Linked DNA regions of Homo sapiens. The protein of the gene in region 1 purifies or fractionates together with the protein of each later gene. This does not show direct contact. Each region holds a gene or a part of one and is shown in the gene's direction. Other genes may lie near its edges.

Evidence for each region.
Region 2: the proteins of EPN3 (region 1) and BTBD1 purify together in Homo sapiens (affinity purification with mass spectrometry; 3 studies listed by BioGRID and IntAct, with this or other methods). This does not show direct contact.
Region 3: the proteins of EPN3 (region 1) and KCTD10 purify together in Homo sapiens (affinity purification with mass spectrometry; 3 studies listed by BioGRID and IntAct, with this or other methods). This does not show direct contact.
Region 4: the proteins of EPN3 (region 1) and ZFTRAF1 purify together in Homo sapiens (affinity purification with mass spectrometry; 3 studies listed by BioGRID and IntAct, with this or other methods). This does not show direct contact.
Region 5: the proteins of EPN3 (region 1) and VPS39 purify together in Homo sapiens (affinity purification with mass spectrometry; 3 studies listed by BioGRID and IntAct, with this or other methods). This does not show direct contact.
Region 6: the proteins of EPN3 (region 1) and KCTD3 purify together in Homo sapiens (affinity purification with mass spectrometry; 3 studies listed by BioGRID and IntAct, with this or other methods). This does not show direct contact.
Region 7: the proteins of EPN3 (region 1) and PLEKHA7 purify together in Homo sapiens (co-immunoprecipitation; one large-scale study listed by IntAct). This does not show direct contact.

The regions. Positions count from the first base shown.
Region 1 is NC_000017.11:50,539,235-50,542,734, forward strand, and holds part of EPN3 (epsin-3), read left to right. Parts: coding exon 1-81; intron 82-1,012; coding exon 1,013-1,100; intron 1,101-1,558; coding exon 1,559-1,828; intron 1,829-1,994; coding exon 1,995-2,099; intron 2,100-2,229; coding exon 2,230-2,460; intron 2,461-2,609; coding exon 2,610-2,923; 3' UTR 2,924-3,500.
Region 2 is NC_000015.10:83,019,088-83,022,252, reverse strand, and holds part of BTBD1 (BTB/POZ domain-containing protein 1), read left to right. Parts: intron 1-1,490; coding exon 1,491-1,578; intron 1,579-3,165.
Region 3 is NC_000012.12:109,470,801-109,474,300, reverse strand, and holds part of KCTD10 (BTB/POZ domain-containing adapter for CUL3-mediated RhoA degradation protein 3), read left to right. Parts: intron 1-3,500. UniProt on the Homo sapiens protein: Substrate-specific adapter of a BCR (BTB-CUL3-RBX1) E3 ubiquitin-protein ligase complex. The BCR(BACURD3) E3 ubiquitin ligase complex mediates the ubiquitination of target proteins, leading to their degradation by the proteasome.
Region 4 is NC_000008.11:144,456,372-144,459,871, reverse strand, and holds part of ZFTRAF1 (zinc finger TRAF-type-containing protein 1), read left to right. Parts: intron 1-3,500.
Region 5 is NC_000015.10:42,158,201-42,160,752, reverse strand, and holds the end of VPS39 (vam6/Vps39-like protein), read left to right. Parts: 3' UTR 1-2,052; downstream 2,053-2,552. UniProt on the Homo sapiens protein: Regulator of TGF-beta/activin signaling, inhibiting SMAD3- and activating SMAD2-dependent transcription.
Region 6 is NC_000001.11:215,570,304-215,573,803, forward strand, and holds part of KCTD3 (BTB/POZ domain-containing protein KCTD3), read left to right. Parts: intron 1-3,482; coding exon 3,483-3,500. UniProt on the Homo sapiens protein: Accessory subunit of potassium/sodium hyperpolarization-activated cyclic nucleotide-gated channel 3 (HCN3) up-regulating its cell-surface expression and current density without affecting its voltage dependence and kinetics.
Region 7 is NC_000011.10:17,004,415-17,007,914, reverse strand, and holds part of PLEKHA7 (pleckstrin homology domain-containing family A member 7), read left to right. Parts: intron 1-3,500. UniProt on the Homo sapiens protein: Required for zonula adherens biogenesis and maintenance. Acts via its interaction with CAMSAP3, which anchors microtubules at their minus-ends to zonula adherens, leading to the recruitment of KIFC3 kinesin to the junctional site.

The DNA.
Region 1 (3,500 bases):
GGGGCCGTGGTCCACCATCAGCGGGACAGAGAGCCTGAGAGAGAAGAGAGAAAGGAGGAGGAGAAGCTAAAAACCAGCCAGGTAGGGAGTGGGCTGCGGTGCTTGGGATGGACAGGGCCTAAGAGATGGACTGAGTATTTGTAAAGAGAGAGCAGAGCAGTGCCTGGCATATAGTAAGCACTGATGTGTTTATTCGATGAAATAGGGGTGGGGGTGTAGCAGCCCTAGTCCCACATTGCATGGGCTGGTGACTGAGTTAACAGCAAAGTGGGATGCAAAAGGTTCCTGATTGGAGACCCCCGGATTCGGGTTCTGGATTTGCTGCCACTTACTCTATGACTTGGGGCATGTCACTGTCATGGCCTCAGTTTCCCCTTCTGCACAGTGTGCTTATTGGATAGTTCCAGCTCTGACATGCTAGGATTATGTGATACTGTCAATCAAGACTAGGGTTGGCCTAAGCACATGGTGCTGAAAACACCTCGGGCTCATGGACATATTTTCTCCGCATGGGGAGTGGGCAGCTGCTGAGTGCAAGGCTGCCCTCCAAAGCTGTCCATGCCACGCCCGGGTGCTGTGGTCTCCTTTCCGTCCATGTTCACTGTGGCCAGTTTCTCTTGGACACTGACCTAGGGAGGTAGGCTGGTTGAAAAACATCTGCCTTTGGCCTTCCTGCCCCTTTCTGCTGGCCTGGATTCTATCCCAGCTCTGCCTCTCCCTGGCTGTGTGACTTCAGGCAAACCCATTCCACCCTCTGTGCGCTGGCTGGCTCATCCATAAAATGGGTACATCATCTGCCCTACCTACCTCACAGGGTTGTTATGAAAATCAGGTACTCTGTGGATGAAGAAACATTATAAACTGTAAAGCACTGTGCAGAGGTGAGGGATCATGAATAGGTATCTGTGGAATGAATAAAGAGAATGAACTGGCATTAGCCTGACAGGTCAGGGCCTGCCCTCCCTCCAGGCCCCGCCCACTTCTGAGCCGCGGCTGCCTCTCCCCTCCACAGTCCTCCATCCTGGACTTGGCTGACATCTTCGTACCTGCCCTGGCCCCGCCCTCCACACACTGCTCTGCTGACCCATGGGACATCCCAGGTGGGCATGCAGGGCTGCAAGAGACTTCCAGGCTGGCCCAAGAGCCTCCTCCTTCCCAGCCACTTGCTGGGCCAAGCACCTCCTCCCAAAATCTGAGTGTCACCGGGCAAGTCACTCACCACCTTGAGCCTCCGCCGCCTGTGGGACAGGCTTTCGTAGTGAGGGCTATGGAGAATGTCTGAAGGGCCCAGCTCCTAGGAAACGCAGCAAAATGTTCTCTCGCTGCACTCACTTGCTCAGCACGCCTGGGAAGGTGGCCTGAGTCGCCCACACCTGCAGGTCCCAGTTCCTGGGGTCACTTGTCAAATAGGGGCTCCAGCCTGCTGGGTGGTCCTGAGGCTGCAGGCCATCTGTGACATGGATCTTCTGCCTCCCAACTTGGGCTGGGTAACTGGGAAGGGCCCTGGGCGAGGGATAAGGGTGGGCCTGGGATCATGTCTATGCTGTTCCCATTTCAGGTTTTAGGCCGAACACAGAGGCCAGTGGATCCTCCTGGGGGCCTTCTGCAGACCCCTGGTCTCCGATCCCCTCAGGAACCGTCCTGTCCCGAAGCCAGCCCTGGGATCTGACTCCCATGCTCTCCTCCTCTGAGCCCTGGGGCAGGACCCCAGTGCTGCCTGCTGGGCCCCCCACCACAGACCCCTGGGCCCTGAACTCTCCCCACCACAAACTCCCCAGCACTGGGGCTGACCCTTGGGGAGCCTCCCTGGAGACCTCCGACACACCTGGTAAGAAGAGGGCCAGAGAGTGTGAGTGAGGAGCTGGGGGACTTCCAGGCAGGGCCAAGGGGCAGCAGATACTGTTTGTGTTAGGAGGACAGCTTCTCTGGAAAGGGGTCAGACCAACACCTGCCCTTTTTGTCAACCCATCTCCTCTTCCTCTCTCTCTTCCGAGGTGGTGCCTCGACCTTTGACCCATTTGCCAAACCTCCAGAATCCACAGAGACCAAGGAGGGGCTGGAGCAGGCCCTGCCCTCTGGGAAGCCCAGCAGCCCTGTGGGTGAGCAGGGCAAGGGGATGGTGAGGCTCTGGGGAATGAGGGGCCCACCCCGAGCAGCCTCTGTCCTCTTCCTCCCACGTCGGGCGCCAATCCCTTTCCCCACCAATTAGCTCTAGCATTTCTATTCCAGAGCTGGACCTGTTTGGAGACCCCAGCCCCAGTTCCAAGCAAAATGGCACGAAGGAGCCAGATGCCCTGGACCTGGGCATACTAGGGGAAGCACTAACCCAGCCAAGCAAAGAGGCCCGAGCTTGCCGGACTCCCGAGTCCTTCCTGGGTCCCTCAGCTTCCTCCTTGGTCAACCTTGACTCGTTGGTCAAGGCACCCCAGGTTGCAAAGACCCGGAACCCCTTCCTGACAGGTAAGATATGCCCTTGTCCCTCAACCCAGGGGCTCCTGCTTTCAGAGCCTAGCCTCCGCCGGAGGAGCCCACTCTTCTTCCCAACTTCCACGACCTCCCGGTGTAGGGCTCTGAACCCCGGGTCACTCAAAGCCACTCTCGTTCTGCAGGTCTCAGCGCTCCGTCCCCCACCAACCCGTTCGGCGCGGGCGAGCCGGGCAGGCCGACGCTAAACCAGATGCGCACCGGCTCGCCGGCGCTGGGCCTGGCAGGCGGGCCTGTGGGGGCGCCCCTGGGCTCCATGACCTACAGCGCCTCTCTGCCCCTCCCGCTCAGCAGCGTGCCAGCTGGCTTGACCCTCCCCGCCTCGGTTAGCGTCTTCCCGCAGGCCGGAGCCTTCGCACCGCAGCCGCTGCTGCCCACGCCGAGCTCAGCCGGGCCGCGGCCCCCGCCCCCGCAGACCGGCACCAACCCCTTCCTCTGAGCCCCGCCCCGTCCCATACCGGCCTGCGCCTGCGCCGGACGCTCCGCGGCCCCGCCTCCGGACCCGGGGCTGGGCGGGGCGCCGGTGCTAGTGGAACGCCGAGCCAGTGGCGGCTGGTATCCCGCGGCGGCTCTGGAAGCTGGACGCGGACCACGGCCCGGGAGCTAGAAACTGAACGCCCGCATAATAAAGACTGGAACCCTCGTTCTCAGCTCTCACCAAGTGGACTTTTTGCGGGGTGTGGCGGCCGGGTCTCGACCACAGCGTGGATCACCGGCTGTTTAGGAAACTGCAGCTGCACAACGTGGGGTGCAAAACTGCCCCGCTTCCTTTACAGCTCTTCTCAACCCTCACCTCCATCCCCCGTCACCCAGGCACCTTCGCTTCCAGATGCTGCCAGGCTGTCACTCAATTCGGTCATTTCATTCATTTATCACACATGGGCACTGGGGTTGGGCTAACAGCAAGAGACAATAGGCCTTTGTTCCTATTTATTGGGTACTGCTTACGTGCTAAGCAGATCAGTTTATTTAATGCTTGCAACGACTCTCTGAGGTAGAAAATATTGTTAATTCCG
Region 2 (3,165 bases), on another chromosome or scaffold:
GTTAGACTCCATCTGTAAAAAAAAAAAAAAAAAAAATTAAACTAGCAAGGAATGGTGGAGTGTGTCTGCAGCCCAGCTACTTGGGAGGCTGAGGTGGAAGGATCACTTGAGCCCAGGAGTTCAAGCCTGTGGTGAGCCATGATTGTACCACTGTACCCCAGCCTCGGCAATAGAGCAAGACTCCATCTCTTTAAAAAAAATTACATGTTTGTAAGCGTTTAAGGTGATCTTACTGTACCAGATGTTCAAAATAGTACTGTTATCTAGCTTATAGGGCTGTTACGATGACTAAAGGAAATAATTCTGTAAAGAACTGAAGTTCAGTGCCTGGCACACTAGGAAGTACTCATGAAGTGGTATTGATGAGTTAGTATTACTAATAATTGAAGGTGTTGCTGACAATGTTGAGAGTTACTCAATGTAATTTTGCAATGTAAGACATTATAATTATGTCAGATTTTACAGGCTTTTAGTTCCATATGTATTATTATTATTATTATTATTATTATTTGAGAAGGAGTCTCGCTCTGTCACCCAGGATGGAGTGCCGGGTCACCTGCAGCTTCCTTCTCCCAGGTTCAAACGATTCTCCTGCCTCAGTTTCTCTAGTAGCTGGGATTACAGGTGCCTGCTATCATGCCCAGCTAACTGTTATATTTTTAGTAAAGACAGGGATTTGCCATGTTGGCCAGGCTGGTCTGAAACTCCTGACCTCAGGTAATCCACCTGGCTCAGCCTCCCAAAGTGCTGGGATTGCAGTGTGAGCCACCACACCCAGCCTCAGTTCCATATGTATTTAATGTCAGTTTTTATTCATTTACAAAATGGAGTAAGATGGGTCAATATTTCTTAACTATTATGACCAAACTGGACTTGTTAATTATTCTAGTTAGGAAACTGCATTCGAATCCTGTCCCATCCCTCTGCTACCAGTATTCTGTTAGAGTAGCCTACTTCCTTCACAGCTCTTGTTACAATTTGTAATTATTTATTTATTCCTTTCTTGCATTATCAGTGTCCTCCATTAGACTGTATGCACAATGCAGGTAGAAACTGTCTTGTTGACCATTACTTCCGCAGTGCCAAGCCTAGTACCTAAATATGATAAGCCCTTAGTAAGTATTTGTTGAATTGATAATTGTCGTAGTTTGAGATGCTGGGCTTCAGTCCTAATGGCTGAGATGTCTGCGTTCATGAAAAAGATGTACAAATATTTGGACTCGTATAGCACTAAAATTATCATTACAACAAAAGTGGGTATTTAGGTTAAATTCTTTTACAAAACCAATTCTTAGGTTCCTCTTAAGTTCAAATCTGCTCTAGAAAGCTTTTTGGTAAGCAAACAGATGACATTTCCAAGGATATCTAATTTGTTTTCCTTTTTATAAGCAAAACTGGATGTTCCAGGTTACACTTAAAAAAAATTATAACCCTTCAGAATATGAACACATGGGATTAATTATATTTTATTTTTGGCTTCTTTCTCTCAGATTCACAGTTAATAGAAGGATCTCTATAGTTGGATTTGGCTTGTATGGATCTATTCATGGCCCTACAGATTATCAAGTGAATATACAGGTACAGTTTCCTCCCCCACCATATATCATTTTGAAATAACACAAACAGGTAACTTTAAGATATTGTTTTGACAGAATCCAAATTTCAATATAATTGTCAAAGCAATCAGAAGGCCCCTTAGTAGCATTGTAAGCATAAAGAGTTCTGTTTTAGAGTTGATCTAAAAAGTCTGGTTGCAGAAAATTGGGGTCCTTCACAAAAGCAGTAGCATATAAGGAGCTCTTCTTTGTCCAGGAATCCCTTCTATTAGTACTTCCTGCTGTGCAGTCTTAAAACATCCTCCTGCCTTTTTCATGGCCCTTTCAACTCTAGGACTGAAACTAAATTTCTTGTAACTGGTGTGAGCATCCTGTGACTTCCAAGGGGCTGAGCAGACCCTGCTTTATTCTTGGTTACTTTTTTTTGAGACAGGGTCTCACTTGGTCGCCCAGGCTGAAGAGCAGTGGTGCGATCACAGCTCACTTCAGCCTTAATCACCCAGGCTCAAGCAATCCTCCCACCTCAGCCTCCCAAGTAGCTAGGACCACAGGTATGTGCCACCATGCCCAACTAATTTTTCTTTCTTTTTTTTTTTGTCTCGCTGTGTTGCCCAGGGTGGTCTTGAACTCCAGGGCTCAAGTGATCTTCCTGCCTTGGCCTCCCAAGGCATTGGGATTACAGGCATTAGGCCCCTGCTTCTTTTTTTTTTTTTTTTTTTTTTTTTTTGAGATGGAGTCTTGCTCTGTTGCCCAGGCTGGAGTGCAGTGGCGCGATCTTGGCTCATTGCAAGCTCCGCCTCCCGGGTTCACACAATTCTCCTGCCTCGGCCTCCTAGCACTTTGGGAGGCCAAGGAAGGTGGATCACGAGGTCAGGAGTTTGAGACCAGCCTGGCCAACATGGTGAAACCCTGTCTCTACTAAAAATACAAAAAAATTAGCTGGGCATGGTGGTGCATGCCTGTAATCCCAGCTACTCGGGAGGCTGAGATAGGAGAATTGCTTGAACTGGGACCTGGGAGGCAGATGTTGCAGTGAGCCAAGGTCATGCCACTGCCTTCCAGCCAGGGCTACAGAGTGAGACTCCGTCTCAAAAAAAAAAAAAAAAAGACACCAGGCTTCTTGTGTACAAACTGTGGGAGGGCATCAGGATTATAGGTACATTAAAATTATGAAGTATAAATACTGTGAGTAAAATAATAGAAACAGTCTGGGCGCAGTGGCTCAGATCTATAATCCCAGTACTTTGGGAGGCCGATGTGGAAGGATTGCTTGAGCCCAGGAGTTCCAGACCAGCCTGGGCAACAGAACACGATCCCATCTCTACAAAAAAAATGAAAAATTAGGGCTGGGCGCAGTGGCTCACACCAGCACTTTGGGAGGCTGAGGTGGGCAGATCGCTTGAGACCAAGAGTTGGAGATCAGCCTGGCCAACATGATGAAACCCTGTCTCTACTAAAAATACAAAAAAATTAGCCAGGTGTGGTCGCGCACATCTGTAATCCCAGCTACTCAGGAGGCTGAGGCACGAAAATTGCTTCAGCTTGGGAAGTGGAGGTTTCAGTGAGCCGAGACCCCAACACTGCACCCCAGGCTAGGCAACAGAGTGAG
Region 3 (3,500 bases), on another chromosome or scaffold:
ACCAATTTTGCTGTCTCCTGCTTCACCTCCCCAGCTTCATTGGTAATGAAATCAAACCTTTGAAACAAGTCAAAAAGCAGGATCCTGGCCAGGCACGGTGGTTCATGCCTGTAATCTCAGCACTTTGGGAGGCCGAGGCAGATGGATCACTTGAGGTCGGGAGTTCGAGACCAGCCTGACCAATGTGGAGAAATCCCGTCTGTACTAAAAATACAAAATTAGCCAGTCGCGGTGGCTCACACCTGTAATCCGAGCACTTTGGGATGCCGAGGCAGAAGGATCACCTGAGGTCAGGAGTTTGAGACCAGCCTGACCAACATGGTGAAACCCCATCTCTACTAACAATATAAAATTAGCCAGGTGTGGTGGTGCATGCCTGTAATCCCAGCTACTCGGGAGGGTGAGGCAGGAGAATTGCTTGAACCTGGGAGGCAGACGTTGCGGTGAGCTGAGATCGTGCCGTTGTACTGTAGCCTGGGCAATAAGAGCAAAACTCAGTCTCAAAAAAAAAAAAAAAAGCAGGATTCCAGTAGCAACAGTGGGGAGAGTCCTCCCTAGAGAGGTTTGCTATGGTGGGGGTCTCTGGTCCACTGCCTCGTGTCCTAAGTTCACTGTAACTTGGGCTCAAGGACACGAATGCTGCCAAAACTTTTCCCCCAAGGGCCTTGCCTACTATTAGGTTGACTGACCTTTGGAGAGGGTGAGCTCTGAAAAGGTTTAGAGCTTTTGTTGCCTAATCTGTAGTCTCATTCTAGATCAGGATGGCTCCTGCCTTTATCTCTTAGTCATGCCGTCTGCCATTAGAGCTGGAAACAGTTTCCAAAGAGAAGATAGTTTGAGACTTCGGGAGCATTCTCAAATCATCATAATTTGAGTGTTTGGAGTGTTTACTCAGAGCTAGGGAGCCCTGTGAGGGAGGTGAGGCTTTTGGCCCTGGACACAGCTACTAAGTGGTAGGGCTGGGGCCTTATGCACAGGTCTAACTCCAAACCCTTAGCCACACTTTACCTCGCGACTATTTTCAGGGCTTTTTGTACTTTTTAAAGAAGGGAGGTGAGGCTGGCCTTTCTCAGCTTATGTATCATAGCTCTCAATCTACTAGGTGTGATGGTCTCTGGGCCAGCCACCACTTGCCCATGTCCTTCACTGGCCCCGTCACTGACTCAACTCCAGCTTGAGAGTGACTGACCCTGATGGGGCTGTGGCATCCAAATCCACAAAATGGAAATAACTATAGCTGTCTTCCAGCATTGTTTGAATTTGTAAAAGGCATGTGGTAGAAATGCAGTGGTCAAGGGACACCGAGGGGCTTTCTGGAGGCATGGAAATGTTCCAAGACAGCTTGATTGGAGTGGGGGCTACACAGGTGCAAGTATTGACCAAAACACATCAAACTGTACACTTAAAGTATACTTCATTATGTGCAAATTATCTTTAAAAAGGTATTGGAAAGCCAAAAAAGGTACAGTCATGCGCACATAATGACAGTTTGGTTAGTGACAGACTGCGTATATAACAGTCCCTTAAGATTATAATGGAACTGAAAAATTCCTGTAGCCCAGTGATAGTGTAGCTGTCATTTCAGTGGTAGCACAACATATTACGTGTTCGTGGTGATGCTGGTGTAAACAGAACTACTTTGCTGCCAGTTGTATAAGTCTAGCACACACAATTATGTACAGTACATAATAGTCGATAATAGTAATGAACTTGATAGATATATCACTGGTTAATGTATTTACTATTAATGGTTATTTTAGAATATACTCCTACCTGCCTTTTTTTTTTTAAGTGAAAACTGTAAAACAGCCTCAGGCAGGTGCTTCTGGAGGTATCCCAGAAGAAGGGATTCTTACGGGAGATGACAGTTCCATGCGTGTTACTGTCCCTGAAGACCTTCTAGTGGGACAGGATGTGGAGGACAGTGATACTGATAATCCTGACCCTGTGTAGGCTAGGCTAATGTGTGTGTATTTTGTAGTTTTGGATAAAAAAGTTTAAAAAGTAAAAAAAGAGAAAAAAGCTTATAGAATAAGGATATAAAGAAAGAAAATATTTTTGTACAGCTGTGCAATATGTGTTTTAAGCTATGTTATTACAAAAGGGTCCAAAAGTTAAAAAAAAATTAAAAAGTTTTTAAAGTAAAAAGTTACAGTAAGCAAAGGTTAATTTATTATGGAAAGAAAAAATATTTTAAATAAATGTAGTGTGGCCTCCCTGTGCAGTGTTGATAAAGCTACAGTAGTGTACAGTAATGTCCTAGACCTTCACATTTACTCACCACTCGCTCACCCAGAGCAATTTCCAGGCCTACACACTCCATTCATGGTAAGTGTCCTATACAAGTATGCCATTAGAAAAAAATCCTTCATATCACATATTTACTGTGCTTTGACTTTACATGAAGTATACTTTATGTACTTTTTTGTCTGTTTCATGATAGGCACCTTCCAAAATGCTAGATCGTTTCCCATAACAAGCATTTATTATATAAAATTAGATCTGAAAGGGGTGCTTAAAAAGTATTTGCATTTTGGGGCAAATTTCCTCAACACACACCCTCACCCATGACCGTAAGCCTTTTCTCCCCCCCTTCGAGGTCTTCACAGTTTTTGGAAACTTTTATTTCCATAAGCTACTCCTGTCATCCCATGGACAAAGGATTTTTCTGAGGGAGGTGGCTGGTCATAACTGTTAGTGTGAGGTCTCTGGGGACTGATTTCAGAGGACAGCTAGAAAGGAGGGGTAACTGCTTCTTCTGGACCTCTTTTGTGTTTGGCATCGGGCAGCAAAGACCCCAGGTGAGCTAAGCCTGAGCTTTTGAAAACATATTTTCTTGTGACTTTTCTTGATGAAAAAGGAACTGTTTCTTGAGAAAACATTTCTTTCCAGGAGGCCGTTCTTTCTCTGTTTCACTCTGCAGGGCCCTGACATGGCAGGTGATATCCAGGCCACTGTTGGGTGCCATGGAGTTGGGGAGAGTTGGCCAGAAGAGTTGGATAACCTTGAATTGAATATTGTCCATGACTGTCGCGTTGCTTCTGCTGTTGCAAGCTGCCTCCCTTTACTCCCAGTCCCATTTACAAAAATAACGTTTGTGTTTTACCAGTTATAGTTGTAGTACCCATTCATTATAGAAAATCTGGAAAAGCTAGACAATTCTTTTTCAGTTTCAGGGAATAGTTCAAACAAGTTATGTGCTGTCAGTGCCCTGCAGCCAAAAAGCACGAGGAGCATACCTGTAGTCAAGCAAAGTTGGGTTTATTTCCTTGTTGCATTGGGGTGGGGAAGAACTGTGGGACATCTCAGAGAAGGGCTGTGGGCTTGTGTTGGGTGATTTGAGAGACAGTTCAGAGAAGTGGGGCTTTGCTCTGTGTTGGATGCTGCTGGGAAGCAGGGCTAATTCTGTGATTGGGTCTCAGTGATTCCTGACTTGAAAGCAGGAAGAATGGAAGGAGGCTAAACCTCTCATTGGTAAAGCAGCAGCTATAACTCCTATT
Region 4 (3,500 bases), on another chromosome or scaffold:
TTCCACCCTCTGTTCCTGCTAGAACGCTTTTCCTGACCCCAGCAGAACACATGGCTCAGGGTGGGCACCAGCCAAGCTGGGGGCTGACTTAGACAGTCCCTGACTCTGGTGAGAAGAGGGGAGTGGCCATGCTGAGCTTTGTGTGTTCTCCCTGGCACTGGGGCTGTGGGGGACAACTCCATGGGCCTCTGGAATTGGCTGGGTCCTCAGTAACTCGAGAGCTTGTCATCCAGATACCAGATGCCACCAGTGCTGGCAGGGAAGCCTCGGGTGGTGCCCCAGGTCTGAGCCTTTGGGCCTGCAGGGCCAGCTGACCCATGGGCCTGTGCCCGTACGATGATGCCTCACAGGCTGGGAAACCTGCTTGGGTGTCAGACTGAGGCCCTCATGCAAAAGGTTTCCGCCACCGCCGAGTCCTGCCTCACGTCAGGTTGGGGCTGCAGCCAGTACAGCAAGACTCAGCTTTTATGTTCTCTGTGTGGGTGTTAGATATGTTCTGGGGGACTGGCCTGACAAGGTGTGCAGCCACCTTCTGGAGTCTCAGGTGGGTGGCAGGAGGGCTGGTGGGGCAGCAGTTACACCTGTGCAGGAGCTTCTGGCCTGACCAGGCCGCGCAGGTGGTCAGGTCGTTCCTGCCGGCTCCCTGCTCTGCGGCCCGAGGGCAGTGTGGCCTGTTGGCACCTCTGCCCATGGGGCACCTCCTCTGGGAAGAGACAGCCTCAGCGGTGCCCGGGACGTTGCAGCCGCAGCCTCATCCCTGACTTCTCTCCCTCCATTTTGGCCCTTCAGACGAGGCCCAGTGTGATGCTGCGTAAGACAGACCTGGCCCTGACCCTTCCTGCTGCTGTCAGATGAGGCCCTGGGCCTTGGTGCTGGCACCTGGAGGAAGGGACTGCGCATTGTTCCCACCCCTCATGGGGCATTCTTAAGGCAAAAACGGGCTCACTCGGGTGTAAGTGCCGGGCAGGGGCCTCTCACAGATGTGGTCCAGCCGCTCCCTCTAACTCGGCCCTGCACAGTGCCCTGCCATTCCCATGCTCTCCTGCCTGAGGTGTCCTCTCCCTGCCCCTGCCCACCTCTTGGGCCCGGCAGAGGCAGCGCCCCCACTTTGAGACTTTGTTCTCTCCTTGCTACAAGGATCCCCTCCTGCCCCATCTGACCAGGGTGTGTCCACTCTGTTCTGTGGGTGGGTTGGTGTGTGCCGTGGCCCTCCCGCCTGTAGCGCCCATGTCTCTATGCCACATGTTGACAGTCCATTGATAACAGCCCAGGAAGCAGAGATGGCTCCTCTCTGCCCGAGCCCCACACCCCCAACCAGGCCAACAGTGTGCAGTCCTGGGGGGGTGGAGTCACCATCCACATGTCCAAGGAGCTTCGGGCCCCTCTTCCCCAGTCTCCTGGGCAGCAGTACAGGACTGCAGCTGACTCGTTCTTTGAGGTGAGGAAAGTGGCAGAAAACATCTTTGTAAATACGTCTGCTTAGGTATCTAAAACACAGGAGCAAGGAAGATGTTCTGGAATCTCTGGCTAGTTGGAATTTTTGTTTTCTGTGGTGGTTATCATTTGAGTTACTTTTAGATCTAAGCAGCCTTGTTCTGAATGTGGGCCCGACTCTGGGGATTGATTGGCCACCGTTTGAGGTCTGACAGCAGTAGCAGGTGAGGGACTTCAAATCCAGCCTGGGTGGAGGGTTCGAGTCCTGGCTTCATGCTTAACAGCTGTGCGGCCTTGGACAACGTGCCAGTCCCTCTCAGACCCATGTTTGATTCGGGAGGTTAGGGGCCGAGCACGCGGGGTGCATGGGGTGTGCCCTGAAGCACCACTGGCCCTGGTGAGGCCTTGCCTGCATGCAGATGGCAGAGGAAGGGGGACCTCCAACTGGCTGAGCAGCGCTTTTGGGGTTTGTGCCACAGGGAAGCCCTTTGGCTGCATTTTGGCTCTGACGACCTCTGTCAAGGGCCTGTGGGTCCCTGACCCCTGGGTGAGCGAGGGCACTGCTCCCATGGGCCTGGGCACTGTGCCATCCTCCAGTGGCAAACAGGAGGTCCCCAGGGTCTGAGAGAACCATGCAGTCCAGGTGTGAAAGGGGTCCTACAAGGTCAGCTGACCATAGAGACCTTGGGACCACCAGGAAATCGTGGGGGCCCTCAGCCAGGGGATGGGGTCAGGGCTCCTTGAGCCTGTTCCGCCCATCTAGCTCCCCTTTAACCCCAGGGAAGAAGTAGCTCAGGTGGAGACCCTGGGTCTGCATGGGGGTCACGTGAGCTGCCTGTAGCCAGCAGGGGGGAGGGCTGGGTGCTGTCCTGAGGATGCAGGTGCAAATGGCCATTTCTGGGCCACCTGTGTGTATCAGCATCTGCAGAGGGGCCTGGGGTCTGGCTCCTGGGGTTGGCAGCCCCAGGGGCTCTGCCATGGCTGCCCAAGGTGGTGATATTTCCTGTCTGCCTGTTGGGTGTGGGGCAGTGCCACCCTGTCCCATCCCACCTCATCAGCACAGAATGAAGCTGGTCCTATACTCATCACCTGTGCACATGAGGAAACTGAGGCCCCAAGAGGGGAGCCCAAGGTCATATTACTGGGGATCTGTGGGCTGGCGTCTGAGCCCAGCACTGTGGCTTCAAGCCCACATCTGCCCTAGGAGGGCCCAGGAGGCCCTGTGATGTCATTCCCCCGTGATGTCATTCCCCCATGACATCATTCCCCTGTGATGTCATACATGTGACGTCATTCCCGTGCTGTCACCACATGATGTCATCCCCTGTGGTATCACCTCTGTGATGTCAATACCTCTTTTAATGTCATCCCCATGGTGTCATTCCCCCCATGATGCCATCCCCCCATGATGTCAGTCCCCCATGATGTCAATTTCCCACAATGTCATCCCCTGTAATGTCAATACTCCCTTTGATGTCATCCCCGTAATGTCATCCCCTGTGATGTCATTCCCTCATGATGCCAGTGTGATGTCATCTCTGTGATGTCATTCCGTGATGTCACCCCCCATGATGCAATTCCCCTGCAATGTCATGCCCCTGTGATGTCATCCCCCGGTGATGTCATCCCCCCATGTGATGCCAGTCTCCCATGATGTCCCCCCTGTGATGTCATTCATGTGACATCATCCCGTGATATCATTCCCGTGATGTCTCCCCCATGATGTCATTCCCCATGTGATGTCAATTTCCCACGATGTCACCCCTCTGACATCATCCTCTGTGATGTCTCGCCCATGATGTCATCCCCCATGGCGTCATTCTTGGTCGTGGGGGGTTGTGGATCCCCTCCTCTCCCCTCCCTTGGGGTCTTCCTGGCTGGTGGGGAGAGGTGGCCTGGCCTGGGTGCCACAGCAGCTGCTCTGGAAGGTGCCCGGGCTCTTGGGGGCCTTGGCCCACGCCATCCCCTGGACTGTGCGGCGCCCTCCAGGGCCCAGCTTCTGTTGGGTGTTGGGCACAAGTCAGAATCAAGTGCATCTGGCCAGATGCTGCCAGGGCCAAGGATGC
Region 5 (2,552 bases), on another chromosome or scaffold:
CCCAGCATCCTGGGGATCCAGCGGATGGACAGCTTGGCTCTCCCAGAGAGGTGAAGGAGCACCTGGCCTTAGGAATCCTGGCTGCCACCACCACAAGGCTCCCCATTTGGACATTACTGGCTATCTTGTGCCCTGGAACAACTCTGAATTAATTAGACTCATGGTCTGGCATTGCCAGCTTTTTAATGGGAAAAGAGATTAGTTATACCTTATACCATTATGTTGTGGGCAATTCCAGAGAATTCAGTACCTGCTTGGTCAGGAGGATGTGCACCATCTTGCCTTTGCACACCAGTCACCTGAACAAGGAAACTTGTCACAAGTGTTTGTAACCATGGGGTTGTTCATCAAGGGCTTTTCTATTAAGTACATGACTTCACAAGGACCGCTCAGCATGGCTCACTGGAGAGTTCCATGAGAGAACAGCACTCAAGCTTCTGGCCGCATGGACCCGATGGCTCGCATTCTGTGTAGTGTTTTACGTCTCCATGGTAACTGTGCCCTGCACCCCTCGGTAGCCGCCCTGTTAGTTTTCAGTCTCCTTTTCTTTCTCACCATTTATCACTTCCCTCACTGCCCTACCCAGGCTTTCTCTCCCACTTCCCTGACTCTGGGAATAACTAATATTTAAGCAAGGTAAGATGAGAAGCAAGGGGTCTCAGTTCTAGGAATACAGTGCTAGTTGATTGTCAGGTATGTTGTAAATAGACCCTCTTTGGCCATACACTCCATGCCTAGATGCCTCGGAGAGCATCATTCTCTGCCTAGGCAAGGCCCTGCATCCCTTGCCTCAGGCCGGGCTGAGTGTGACTGCAGCTCCTGAGGATGGGCCTGCCCTGTCTGGGGTATGCGTGATCCCTAGATACATGTTCCCACAGAGGTGCCTGCTCCGTCTTCGCTCACCAGACACTCAGGCAGGCTGGCTTAGTCTTTGTGCGTGGCGATTTTGTGCTCTGGGCCCTTTCTCTTTTTCCAGCCAGTTTCCATTCACTTGCCTTACAGCCTGCCCTGGCCGTCACTCCCCAGCTTTGTTCAGCAATGGTGTGGTTGGAGAGTTGTGCTGGGATAGCGCAGGAAGGTGGGTCCCGGCAACACGCAGGGGATGAGTGGACCTGGAACTGACAATGGCGTGCTGCCAAGTGTTCCTGAGAGGTGTTTAGGCACAGCAGAGGGGACGCGGGGGGCAAGAACAGCAGGACGCTGGTTTAAAAATAACTCACCGCCAAACCTGTGGAGCAGTGTGGGGCATCCTGCCAGAGGTGCACAGGCTGGAGTTTCAGGCACTGCAGGCTGATGACACACAGGGAGAGTGGCCCTGCCTCCTGTCCTCCCCGGGGTTTTTGCAGACTCGAAGTCTCACTGCACCAGTGTCTTTGATGGTGGTGAGGGTGGGTGATGGTGCCCAGCACCAACAGTTTTAGTGGCCTGTCCTTGACCTGCCGTGGTCCTTTGTAAACTATGGCTCCATGCTGTGTGACAGATCAACGTGCTGATGGTAAGTAGACTAGGCTTCCCCAGGCATGCCGTCCGTGGGGGCCTGAAGAGACAGTGAGTGCCATTGGCCCCATTCGCAGATGTGGGAGACTCTGCTCAGGCCTGTGAGGCTGGGCAGCCCTTCACCAGAGTTCGGAGGAGCAGTGTGTGGCGCCACGTCCCGACTGGCCATACCCACACAGAAGCAGTGCTGCCCGGGGCCTCATCTGGGCCAGCTTGGACTCTGCTTCCTCCAGGAGCAGCAGGGAAGCTCTGGGCCACCTCCCTGGATAGCAGGAACTTGACCTGCCATGTGTGCCCTGCCTTCCTGGCCAGCTGTGCTTGTTATCTTCCATTCTCACAAACTGTCTTTGAAGCAATAGAATAAAGAATGTGTGTTTTCTTTCCTGGTATACATACATGATCCCATGCTCCCAAGCTCCATTCTTCCTTCCCTCAACTCTCTGCCCTCCACAGAGCTATGGAGAAGGCTGGAGATGAAAGCTTTGTAGTGAGGACTGATAAAGATCTCATCACTGCTCCTTATAATAAACCTAATAAAGCAAGAAACCAAGCCTATCTGGGTCTCTTATTTCTCCCTCCCGTGGAGTTTGATGAAAATAACAATGAAAAGATAGTAGTTTAGCAAAGAACTTAGAAGAATAAGCCAATTAGTGACCAAGAAAAAATGAATATAATACTTGCATTACAAATGCCACGTGGTACAGCCAGTGTGGTCATGGCTGATGAGTCAGCAGCACAGATACGGAACACATCCATCATTACAGAATTCTGCGGGACACACTGGCGTCTGGGAGATCCAAGTGTTTTCCCCCATCATGTAGTAGCACCTGGTGCCTCTTCCTGCAGCCCATGATGAAGGAATTGGGATGGAGGGACGCAGAGGTGTTTGGGAAGTGGAGAAGTGTTGGTTCACTTTGGCCAACTCCAAAGAGAAAATGTAGTCCTTGTTGTCTCTGTCCCATCTGGCACTAGGGGCAATGACTTTATTGTGCAGTGGGGCCGATGACTTCCAGAAGAGGATGGTACAGCCAGAAAGACACATCAGTCAGGAGCTA
Region 6 (3,500 bases), on another chromosome or scaffold:
TTTATGGTTTAATACTTTGTGGGTGATTCAGAAAGTAGAGTAGATGAAGTTTCATTTAGAATTGTTAGTATTCGTTATTTACAAAAAGTAATGAAGTGAATTCACTATGACTGAATTTATGATTAATTCTGTTATGGGCAAGTGTGATTTTGGGCCTCATGCAAGAGGGCTGGGACTAGCCATTGAGGACTCCTGGACAAAGAGCTTTTGAGTCAGGTATATGTTTCCAATTCCCAGGCTTTATCTCTAACTAGCCTAGCAACCTTGGACAAATATTTTGATACTTAGTCTATTAAAATGTAAAGTGACAGACAGTAGTACCAATCTTATCAGATTGTTATAGGAATTTGAAGTAATAAATGTGAAATGCAAGGGTTAGTGGCATTATCAGTACTTACAGTGCAGAATAAATAACTAGTTAGATTGCTACCAAGTTAATTTAGTAGGAGGCAAGTTGCATGAAGTATAACTGTGGGTATGCAAATTTCTTTAGTCCTTTGCTGAAACCAGATTGTACATGACTCTGTTCTTGGGACACTATGGGTATGGGATAAAAAACAAATCAAAACAGAAAAGGCTTTCAAATGATTATGCTCATCATGTGTAATTTTAAGTGTGTTAGTTTTCATGAAGTTATATTCGAGACTGGTTTTGGGGCCAGAAGTTTAAAAAAAAATTGGTGGGGATGAGGGTCTAATTCCTTTGCCCAGAAATTCCAGGTTACTAACCTTTCCCCAAAATGCTGATTAAAATTGAAACTGATAATATGATTTTAAGCAGACCTTTGTGATTTTCTAAGTAGCACATAATTTTAATTATTTGGAATACAATTGGTGAATAAGTGGTGAATATAAAAGATTGCAAGTTATAAGCTGTCCTCATTTGGAATGAATTTGATGGCCTCCAAAACAGTGAATCTGCAATGTATGAATCCTTGGATCCTTCAATTTACCATTGAGTGGATTTGCTTTGATTTTGGACCAAGTCAGTTTTCTGTGACTGGGGTAATCTGTGTATTTTTTATTTTTCTTAAGAGTCTATTAAGAAACGCATTTAGGAGCATTTGCAGTGTTTTCTTAAAGTGACTCATTTGTTAATCAGATAAATGGGCGTAGGAACTGCTTATAAACACCTAGACTGTCCATAACCTGTGAAATTAGTTAGTAGTCAACTTCTATGTGTTCCCTAAAGTACCCCTTACTGTAGTTTACATTTAAATGTCTTTAATAAATGAATTGTTTTACTGTCTTTCCTTCAGTTAGCCAATGAAAGAATACTTTTCCTTACAAATTGTAAAGTTGTATGTGGGAAGAAGTGGAGATAAACTTTTTTTTTTTTTTTTTCCGAGACGGAGTCTCGCTTTGTCGCCCATGCTGGAGTGCAGTGGCGCGATCTCAGCTCACTGCCAGCTCCACCTCCTGAGTTCACGCCATTGTCCTGCCTCAGCCTCCTGAGTAAGCTGGGACTACAGGTGCCCGCCACCACGCCTGGCTAATTTTTCGTAGTTTTAGTAGAGACGGGGTTTCACCGTGTTAGCCAGGATGGTCTCCATCTGCTGACCTCGTGATCTGCCCGCCTCGGCCTCCCAAAGTGCTGGGATTACAGGCGTGAGCCACCGCGCCTAGCCGAGATAAACTTTTAATTGTGATTGGAAAGCATGTTTTGATAATGATAGAAAATTTATTTTGGAGACTAAGGCACTTTTTATGGAACAGTGCATACACGGCTTCTGCTGTTACTGACACTGAGACTGATACTGCTAAATGATTTAAGTGGGCAGTTTAGTGACATCTGTGTGTCAACACCAGTGTATTCTGAAAGTGCTCTGTTGTAACCATAAAATGCCTGCAGATCGTACAGAAGAATCAAGTCTCCGTTTTGTACAGAACATTTAACTGAGTTTTAGAGTGTGATTCTGTTTATCACACATAAGTTTCAATAAACATTTACTGGGTGTGTGCTAGGTGCTAAGAACAATGCTTTTAGGTGGTCCTCTCTGGCTTTAAGAAAAAACAACATCTACTTTTTTAATACAAAATCCATTTCTGAAACTGAGTTTGAAAAGTGAATTTACAGATAATCCATTTATCAAGATATGTAAAATATTATGAGCCATTGTTGCCTCAGGTGCCTGGATGGACTTGCAAAGTTGAGAGATCTGTGAGACTTCTGACACTACTCTGTATAAGCCTTGGTAGTCACAGTCACCCTGGCCTGCAATCCAGTGCTATTTAATAGCCCACTTAGAAGATGGGAATGGGAAGTAGGATGTATTTTGAGGTTTGTTATGCTGCAGTGAGCATAATAAAAAAAAGTAAGCAACTTCCACGTTTTTGATAATTCCAGGCTGCTAATTTAGGTAATGGCAGACAATAGATGGATGATACAGTGTATACATGCACAGCCTGGGAAACATCCCTTAGCCATTTTGGCTGGGGTTTGGCCTGTGTTTCCTGGTGATAGTGCATGGTAACTAGTGCCACTATTCAGTCACCTTGTTTAGTTTAAGTATGAAAGGTAAAAATAAATTTAGGGATTTCATATAATGCCAGAAAATAAATGTGGAGTGAAAGTAGAGGTTTGCTAGGCTGGGTGAGATAACATTGTAGTTCAAGGTGATATCTTAAAATGAAAATACTCAGAGAAGGGCTGGACTGAACAAGTACTATATTGCTTTGTTTGCCATATCAGTTTACATAAATTATTGGTTTGTTGTCCCAGTCTATTATACTGTACTTTGGTAAAGATCCTCCCTTGGTAATATACAAGCTTGATCAAATGACAACCTCAGAACAGTGATGTATTTGGCTGAATGATTTTTGAATGAATGAAGTCAGCAGTTGCAGATAGCCCAAGACTGCCTATAAAGAAGGTGTTAAATGAGTAATTTACAGTGAAATTACTATGAGCTTAAAAAGAGATAATACAGGATTGGATATTTAGAAAAACTATTACAGGGAAGGTAAAACCTGAGTGGTATCAAGAAAGATGGACGGATCTTGAATTATTGGACATGAAGAGAGTGATCTAGCTGAATAAAGATACCAAAATGGTAGTAAGCATGAATTTTTTGGGGATATGAAGAAGTTTTGTCCTATTAGAGGGGAAAACCAGCATTTGTACTGGAGAGATGAGATGGAACCTGAAGGTAATTTTGAATGTTATACTGAGAAGTTGAGACTTGGTGTGATGGGCTAATTGTTGATTCTTCAGCAGAGATTAGCTTATTGGAAAGTAGTGTTTTAAGATGCATTATATGGCGGATAACAAGTTGTTTATTGTTATTGAGAGCTGCTTGTATAATCTTAACTCTGAATTGAAAGTAGCAACGTTTAAAAATATTAACTGTAATAAATATATTGGTACAGCTATAACTATAAAACATCTTGTAAATCATTAGCCAGTGTATTAAAACAAGTTAACTAATACTGAAATTTCAAATCATGTTCTCACTTATAATACCAGATGATTTTTAATTGCAGATTTAGTACCTCAAGACA
Region 7 (3,500 bases), on another chromosome or scaffold:
TAAAAACTGCAATTACTTTTGCACCAACTGAATATCTTTAGGCCGGGCGTGGTGGTTCACACCCAGTAATCCCAGCACTTTGAATGGCCAAAGCAGGAGGATTGCTTGGGCTCAGGAATTTGAGACTAGCCTGGGCAACATGGTAAAACCCTATCTTTACAAAAAATACAAAACTTAGCCGGGTGTGATGGTGCATGGCCATAGTCCCAGCTATTAGGGAGGCTGAGGTGGGAGGATCACTTGAGCTTGGGAAGCGGAGGTTGCCGTGAACTGAGCTCACGCCACTGCACTCCAGCCTGGGCGACAGAATGAGACTCTGTCTCAAAAAAAAAAAAAAAAAGCATCTTTAGAGATCCTAAAATGTAAAATTTTGTTCTTCTGTAGTTTTTCCCTTGACTTGTCATTTAAAAAAAAATAAAATTGCTATTTATGGGCATGGTGGCGAGTGCCTGTAATCCCAGCTACTTGGGAGGCTGAGCCAGGAGGAACGCTTGAACCCAGGAGGTGAAGGTTGCGGTGAGCCAAGATTGCACCATTGCACTCCAGCCTAGGCAACAAGAGTAAAACTCTGTCTCAAAAAAAAAATTTTTTTTTCTATTTAATGTAATTCTACATAAAGAAAAATTAAGTTTAAATTATTAGCATAAATTTTATAGTTATTTCTATATTGTAGAATATAATGTTTTAAATGTGAATATCAGTGCATTTACCTCATATGCTAGGAGTTGCCACCACCATGCCCCACTCCAAGACACCATAGAGCACAAGCACCTGTATCCATGCCCCCCTGGGCAGCAGGGAGGAGCAGGGAGCCCAGGCAGGGCTTAGGGCTCCAGGAGGCTGGGAGTGGGCAGTTAAGAACCTGGTCCTCCGAGGCAGGGAGTGGGGACCAGGCATGAGTCCTTCAGAAGGTTACCTCTGGAGATAATGCCAAGTATCAAGGGTGTGTGTTTTGTATTCAGCAACCCATTTTTTAGTCTGAAATCAAAGGGAGTTGGAGAGTGAAGGATGAACCAAATGTGACAGATGTTCAGTTGGGGATTTTGTAGACACCAGGCCTAGAAGGCCCTTAGGAAAGCCAGTGAATACTGGACAGCCCAGGAGGCTGCCCTTAATTATGACCTCACCCAACCGACAGTCTTCTGGGCCACCCCTAGGAAGGAGTCTGTCCTGTCTTCTATATTTTCCTCCCTAGATAAATGTTGAACTTCATGGCAGTGAAATTTATCTTGTAGAATGTCAAACCTATTGATTCACTTATATATCATCTTCCTTTTTTTTTTTTTTTGAGACTGAGTCTTGCTGTGTCACCCAGGCTGGAGTGCAGTGGCGGCATCTCGGCTCACTGCACCTCTGCTTCCCGGGTTCAAGCGATTCTTCCACCTCAGCCTCCTGAGTAGCTGGGACTACAGGCATGCGCCACCATGCCTGGCTATTTTTTTGTATTTTTAGTACAGATGGGGTTTCACCATGTTAGCCAAGCTGGCCTTGAACTCCTAACCTCAGGCAATCCGCCTGCCTTGGCCTCCCAGAGTGCTAGGATTACAGGTGTGAGCCACCGTGCCTGGACGTTTTTTTTTTTTTTTTAGATGGAGTTTCATTCTTGTTGCCCAGGCTGGAGTGCAGTGGTGTGATCTCGGCTCACTGCAACCTCCGCTTCCCTTGTAGCTGGTGTTACAGGCGCCCACCACCATGCCCGGGTAATTTAGTAGAGACGGGGTTTCACATGTTGGTCAGGCTGGTCTTGAACTCCTGACCTCAGGCTGTCCACCCGCCTTGGCTTCCTAAAGTGCTGGGATTACAGGCATGAGCCACCATGCCCAGCCTTATTTGTCATCCTTCTTATTGAGATGTTGCTGGGAACAGCAGTCCCAGAAACTTTATTTCAAACCTGGGGGTAATAGTCCCACAAAGAATTTCTGGGAAACTAGCAGCTTACATATATACTAAAATAGAAATTCTGAACCCCCTCATTGAAGGTTAAGAAAGGTTTTCCCAGCTTGGCAAGTTTTGGCAGAATCCCATGCTTTATATTTCACTTCCTGGTTGCATTTTCAAGGGTAAAAACTGGTTCATGGATTTAAACGTTAGGTTCTGTGGGAAAGGAAAAACAGTGAGTGTTGTTTAGAAAGCGAAAGGAAGGATTAGGAGCCATGATTTATACCACATCTCCAAAAAGAAACTTCTTTAAGGAAACGTCTTTAAGAAAAATGGTTGCAAGTTGCTTTTTAAGGCTCTTTACCCATGAGAGGAGTGTGTTTTAGAGATAGGACAGATGCTGGGTTGGGAAGAGGTGTTTTCATGTGATGAGGGTGGGTGTAGGTTTCTTGTGCCTTGATGGCACCCTCTCCATTCTCTCTCTCTCTCTTTCTTTTTTTGTTTTGAGACAGAGTTTTGCTCTGTCACCTAGGCTAGACTGCAGTGGCATGATCTCAGCTCACTGCAACCTCTGCCTCCTGGGTTCAAGCAATTCTCTTGCCTCAGCCTCCTGGGTAGCTGGGATTACAGACACCCACCACCACGCCTGGCTAATTTTTGTATCTTTAGTAGAGACGGGGTTTCACCATGTTGGCCAGGCTGGTCTCAAACTCCTGACCTCAAGTAATCTGCCCACCTTGGCCTCCTGGAAGTGCTGGGATTACAGGCGTGGGCCACCGGGCCCAGCCTCCATTCTCTTTTGATGTCTATGGGAGTAAATTTGGTGCTTCCTAAATTGAGAACTTTGGAAAAAAATTAAGACAGCACTTTAAACAGAAACGTGTGCAGGGGCAGGGAGATGCCAGTTTACCCCCCCCGTTAAGTCTGAGGTGACAGAGGGCTGTAGGAAGACTGCTTGTTGGCTTTTCAGCCTCAATATGTGGAATATTTGGCAATTCAGTGAGGTACCTGCTCTTGTTTTCTATCTTCAGAGGACAGCACAGGTTTGAATCTCTTTGCTCAGTGTAAGACAGCATCATCTCAGCAAACTGGCAGGTATCTTAAGTAAATATTGGCAGAGGGAAAAACACGGAGGAATATGGTTGTATTTGCCTGTTGTTTTTAAATGGCTGTCAAAACATTTGCTTTTCAATTTTCTGAAATGAGAAATATTTTGAGTTAATGTTTTATCATTTACAGAGTATTTCACGAACATTCTCTGGTTTGTCCCATAATTATTGCATTTTTTTAGTGCGGGAATTTGGGCTCAGAGGGGTAAAGTGACTTCTCTAAAGTTGTATACTGGGCTGGGCATGGTGACTCATGCTTGTAATCCCAGCACTTTGGGAGGCCGAGGTGGGCAGATCACCTGAGGTCAGAAGTTTAAGACAAGCTTGGCCAATGTGGTGAAACCTCATCTCTACTAAAAATACAAAAATTAGCTGGGTATGGTGGTGCGTGCCTGTAATCCCAGCTACTCGGGAGGCTGAGGTAGGAGAATCACTTGAACCCAGGAGGCAGAGGTTACAGTGAACTGAGATTGCGCCATTGCACTCCAGCCTGGGCGACAAGAGTGAAACAGT